Regions from separate parts of the Homo sapiens genome. Here region 2 is linked to region 1. The links come from fine-mapping of genetic effects on gene expression. A gene starts in region 1. The other region holds a variant in brackets. All regions are shown on one strand. Distances are from middle to middle.

Region 1 (2,907 bases):
GTCGGGTGGGGACTGGAACTTCCTCTGCTGGAGCCACCTCCTAGGAGAAGCGAAGATGCCATTGGGGCCTCCCCCGGATGAACAGAGGATGCTGGAAGCGCTTCGGCTACTGGCTGGCCCGGCCAGGACAGAAGGCAGGTCCCAGGCCATGCTCTTCTTGAGGCCGCCGCGACCCAGGGGAACCTCATAGTCAAAGTGAAAGCTGCCGGATGGTGACTTCTCCTGCGGGGTGCTGGGTGTGGAGAAGGACGAGCAAAGAGGTCCAGGAGGCGGTAGCCTGGTGGCCCTGGGGGGCGGACCCCGGGAAGAGGACGCCAAGCGAGGGCCGAGACTCTCGGCTGGGAGTGATGGGGAGTAGAGGCGGCCCGCCGTGGCTCCCCGCGCACTGCCCTCCGCGCCCGCCTCGTCGCTCCCGCAGCCGCCGATCAGGGCCGGGTCCAGGCTGCGGGTCTGGCGCAGCTTCCTCTTGGAGAAGCCCTTGGCCGAGGCCGCGCTACTTGAAGCGGGCGAGGAACAGGAGAAGACGCTGTGGAGCAGGCTCTGCGCGGACATCTCGGCGGGGCTGCACCTGAGGACCACCTCCTCCTCCCTCCCTGGACGCTGGTGGCTTTGGGTCGGGAACCGAAAGGGACTCAGGCAAAGGTGCCAGGCGGGGCTGGCCCGGGGTTTGCCCAGGGCAGTGGAGAGCAAAGCCCAGCTCACGCGCCGCCGGTGCGCTCCAAGTGCCCCGGCGGCGGCAGGAGCAGCAGATCCATCACCAGCCTTCTAGGAAAATGGGTCTGGGGACCTCCTGCAGCCGCTAGAACCTTCCTCCGGAGCCCAAGACGCGAAGAGGGTCAGGAAGAGGAGGAGGAAGGTCAGGCGCTCGCTGGGTTCCCAGCTCCAGCCTGCCAGCGCCACTCCCCCTTCCTAGCTGAGGCGGGAGACGCAGCGCTCCTGCTCGCTGGCTCTGGATGGCCTCTAAGACTCCAGCAAGCTCCTCCTTGCGGCCCGAGGACAGTCCCGAGGGCCAGGGAGAAGGCTGCCTGGGCGTGCGCCCAGGGCGCGTCCACCGCGCTCCCGGCGCCGCGAGAACTTCCTCCCGCTCCTGAGCCGGGCGCCTGAGCTGCGCCTCCCTGCACTCTCTCCTTGCCCCGGCGCCCGAGGTTGCGCGCCTGGCCTCCGCTGGGCTGCTGCGCCCACTCTTCCGACTGCAGAGGCTCAAGGGTTGTTCCAAGCTCAAGGTTCCCGCGGGGTCTCTGTCTTGCTGCAGTGTGGGGACACCGAGCGTGCTGCGCCCGGGACCTCCAAAGACTGCGTGCCCACGGTGGGATGGAATTCCCGGCGGCGCTCAGCGCTCTCCGTGGAGGAGGGAGCTCAGGAGACAGCCCCAAGGCCGGGTGTGTGTGTTCCGCCGGAGAGGAACACGCTATTCGCAGCCCAGCCTTGGGCCCAGGGCAGACGCGGAGATGACCCCGTACGCTCGCTCTAGAGGCAGCGGGAAGGGGGCGGCCAGGACGTGTAGAGCTGGAGGAATGCCGGGGCTGGAGCTGGGGCGGAGCCAGGAGCAGGAGAAAGCAGAACGTGAAGAGTTTTCCAGGCGCCAAACCTGCAAGCGGCGAGGAGAGAAGGCAGCTCGCCACTGATACCGGGTCTCCTGGGGAGAAAGTCGTGAGGACGGAAGTGCGGACCTTCTCCCCCGTCTCCCCACCCCCAGATCAAGGGTCGCGCCAGCTCCACTCACGTTTCTGGAAAGGAAGGGAAGTGTCAGATTGCACCCCACCCACTGGTGTCAGATGGGCAGCCGGGGACGATTGCTCTGAAGTTGGAGTTAAATCTCCTGCCTTTTCTCCCCGCGCCCCCCCACCCCGCCCTGTCCCGGCTGTTTTTGTTTTTAAAAAGGAAGGATAGATAGGAAACTGTCTAAAAGCAGTGGCTGCCGATGAATGAGCTGGAGATGGAGACCTACTAAGAAAGTGGAGGGGGAGGAGCCTTTGCCGTGGAAGGGGTCCTGAGCACGTGCGGAAACGTGCTCTAGGAGGAGGGGTGAGTGAGGCCGGGTAGGGGGCAGGCGCCGGGCGCAGCTTCAGCCCAGAGGCTGCAGAGATTGGCGCTCACAAAGCGATCTGTCTCCGCGTCCCGCTCTGGGACGCCTCGGGTCTCAGCGCGGTGGCCACAGTCCTGGGAAGCTGGAGAACGCTGGGGAAATCAATCTTCCCGGCAAGGAGATGAGTCTGAAAGCAGCTTCTCCCGCTGTCGGACCCCTGGAATCTATAAAGCGCAAAGCCTCGCCCTCTTGGAGGGCTTTTTGATGTAACAGTTAAGCTTTGCAATGCAACTTACAACCATCTCAGCAGGGAGCAGACAGAATGTTGGAAATGTCTACTTTGTGTTTGTGTCCTCTTTTATCACTTAGGGATGAAGATAATTTTATATAAATGTAAAGGTGACTCTACCATTTCTTTTATTTTGGAGAAAAAATACAATGAAATTATAAATACAGATGTTGGACACGAACATTCCTCTTGCATATCTACCAGAATTGTCCAAGTTTGATTCTGGAAGACTTCCTTTATTCCCTATGACATATTCAGGGGAAAAGTTAATTTACTTAGACTCTTTGAAAAGCGTGTTTGGTGTTCCTAGGTGTTCAGCTATTTTGGAGGAGGTACGTCATGAAATCTAATTAGGAGAATTCGTTGTCTCCACAAAGGGCGTCGGGCTCCCAGGTCTTGGCTGTACTCGTTTTTTGTAAACGCAGCCGAACAGACTGCACCCTTAGAGATTTTTTTTCCGGTAGCTTTAATGAGCTATCTGCTGTCTGAAGACAGAGTTCGATTCTAGTTTCCCATCCCCCATCGCTGTCCATCTCTTCTCACCCTGAGCTTCTTAAGTATTTTCAGCGGCTGTCAATCAGGTGTGCTGCTG
Region 2 (2,907 bases), 400 kb before region 1:
GCAGCCTACAGGCCACAATTGCAGAGTTGAGTTGTTGCAACAGAGACTGCACAGTCCATGAAGCTGCCCTTCCGTAAAGGTAACCATCTGGCCCTTTATGGAAAAAGTTTGCTGACCCCTGGACTGGACTAAAAGTAAAGACACATCTATGATTAGGATCTGCCTTTTGCCATCACCATTTTCCTCCTCTCCTAAGATTTTGTCTCTGAGAAACATCCCAGAGAGCCTGTAAAAAAAAAAATCAAACAACATAATTTAGCATATTAGAAAATATGCAAATGCTAGCATGAAATAGAAGTGGTTATCTGCAAATGGCCTGTTCACCTGGGTTACCGATAAACTAAAGAAGTAGAAATGAACATTGTCAAACCCAGGGCTGGGCTAACACCATCTAAAAAATCAAATGTCACTTACATCTTGTTTCCAGTGGAAAGAACCTTTCCAGTGGTTAGCATAGAGGGGACATACTGGAAGTCCTCAAGGGCAAAAACGTCAGAGCAAAAGGTCAATTTCATTTCTGTGTAGTCCCAGTTGAATTGTGGACTTTTCTAATGGCCATCAATTTAATTCTCAGTTCTAAGCTTCTCTCGAGTCTTGGATGGGAGGAAGAAGGTAAGATGGCCTGCACAAATCTCAGGGTTGCAAAAACTGGAAACACTGGCATGAATTAGAAATTTCTTAATGACAGGGCCAGCAGCTGATGGTTCTACTTGTCTTTCTCTAATTAAATTTAGTTCACTGAAATTAGAACGACCTCCGGAGATAGATTAGACCTTGAAGATACTGCTCACATTTATAGATGGTCCGCTCTCTGCTAGTTACTGTTCTAAGCCTTTTATTTATATTATCTCATTTAATTCTTACAACAACCTAAGGACTATGTTACCATCATTATTCCCATATTTCAGATGAAGAAACTGAGGCACAGAACTTAAGTAACTTGCCAAGAGCACACACCAATTAAGTGGCAGAGTTAGGATTTGAAGCCAGGCTTTAGGTTCTAGAATTTAGACTCATAACCACTATATGTATTTCATAACATTTCATGATAAACCAATCCAAACCTCTAACTTTACAAATGAGCAAAGCAGCTGCAGTGGCATAATGGGATCTGGGACATCAGGGTCATGTTCCCCTCTTTCCACCACCAAGCCCTTTCATTATGAGACATACCCTTATAATAATGAAAGCCAGACAGTGTTTAAAAATTCAGAGGCTTAAAGTTTCCTCTTTTGTAAAAGACAGCACAAGCACATCCGATGTATTATTAGCCTTATTTAATATCCAAACTGTTCCCCTAAACCCATATTTATCACAGCCACAGCAACTAAAATGTTGCACCCATATTCAAGAAGTTAAGAGGGAAAGATAAACCACTTTACCCTTTCAGACTTCAAAACAGCCTGTGCCCGAATCTTTTACAGAAATTAGCTCAATTATGCTGTTCTGTTAATCATGACACAATCCTTTCCTGCTTGAGTTTGCTCATTTCAAGCTGCCACATCATTAATCTAAAAATAAGGTTCTCATAAATCCATATTGACACAGACAGTTTTTAGCTGTCACACATCTCAGACACTGATCATTCCAGTTTTCTTCCTAAATCACAAGATGGATGTGAAAGAATCACAAAACTTTATCACAATTATTTTCTGAAAAAGTAGTGTAAGTATAGATATTTATATTGCTTACCCATAAATTATAATCAGCC[G/A]CGTCTTTGCTGTCCTCTCTAATCTAACTGAACTAAGCTTGCAGTAGGAAGTTGAGTCTGTTTTAAAAAAATTATTTTTTTGGTAAAAAATGCATCCTGAAATGGCAGATCATATTGAATGTCTGAGAAATGGCCCAGCTGGCATAGCTGTGACTCCCACGATACCTTTTGTTGCCAGAGACCTCCGCTACTGTGAATCTTGGGACCAAAAATATGCAATCTTTTCATCGGATCATTGAGAAGTTCCTGTCCTTTCAGAACAGAGGCAGGCTGTGTCCCTGAGTAAGTGCACAAATGAGTGAGTGCGTGTGTTTGTATGCGTGTGTGCCTGTGTGTGTGTGTGTGTGTGTGTGTGTGTGTGTGTGTGTGAGAGAGAGAGAGAGAGAGAGAGGGTGAGAGAGAGAGAGAGTTGGGGAGGAGGAAAGAGGGGAGGGAAGGGACAAAAAGAATGAGAGTATTTTGAAGAAATATACTCGAGTTAGAAAAGGATTCCTCTAAAAAAAATCCTCTTTTCCACAGGGATCTACAAACGGTAATTGGATTGTAACTGTGCAAACTGTCCTTATTAGGAATCAACCAAAGAATGTTGGAAGCCACTGGTGAAACCCCTGAGAGCAAGATAAAGCACATAGGATGCCTTCTTTGTTTAGGACAAATTCTCAGTTCTTAAATTATATTTTAAAACTACTGACTCCATTTTTCTAACACTAGCCACACACACTAAAAAGCAAAAGTTTTCATTCTCTTTCACACTGAAGCATAACACATGCTCTGTATTTTATCCTCTTTGTGGGACAGCAGTCCTTGAGAAGTTGTTCATTTCCTGAACAGAGGGTGTGGAGGTCAGAGTGAATATACCCACATGGCCATATCTAAGAGGGTTCAGGTTGGGGTGGGGGTTGGGGGTGGCATCCATGAAGAGCAGAGAGAAAAGGGAAGATTAATTCCAATCGCGAATTACCTTGATCTCCATGCATTCCACATGGCACTGAACCAAATACAACTCGAAAAGACATCTTTGTTTCCCAGTCAATAGGAAGTTATAGTTCTCTCATGGGTCTCAAGTGAATTCCAACAAAAGAATCACTGTGATTATAATTTACAAACCGGGAAATGATTTCATGGAAGATCTTACTGATTCAAAATTAAGGACTCGGTATGCTTTTACTAGGATTCTGTGAAACTAATCATGTAAG

Alleles and levels. Positions count from the first base shown, and alleles are read on the strand shown. Sizes are in standard deviations (SD) of each study's normalised expression.
With allele A in place of G in region 2, the expression in spleen of the gene that starts at base 1,644 in region 1 is lower (small effect, 0.24 SD a copy in GTEx).

The links.
Region 2: its variant is fine-mapped to the expression of ARHGAP6 in spleen (GTEx, PIP 0.98).

The regions. Positions count from the first base shown.
Region 1 is chrX:11,664,277-11,667,183 of GRCh38, forward strand. It overlaps ARHGAP6 (Rho GTPase activating protein 6), which reads right to left and starts at 1,644. Exons shown (of 13, transcript NM_013427.3): 1 at 1-1,644. The coding sequence starts at 552.
Region 2 is chrX:11,263,994-11,266,900 of GRCh38, forward strand. All of the region lies in intron 1 of ARHGAP6 (Rho GTPase activating protein 6), which reads right to left. Among named protein-coding and RNA genes, the nearest start is that of AMELX, 28 kb to the right of the region's middle. The variant G/A (reference allele first, on the strand shown) is at 1,712.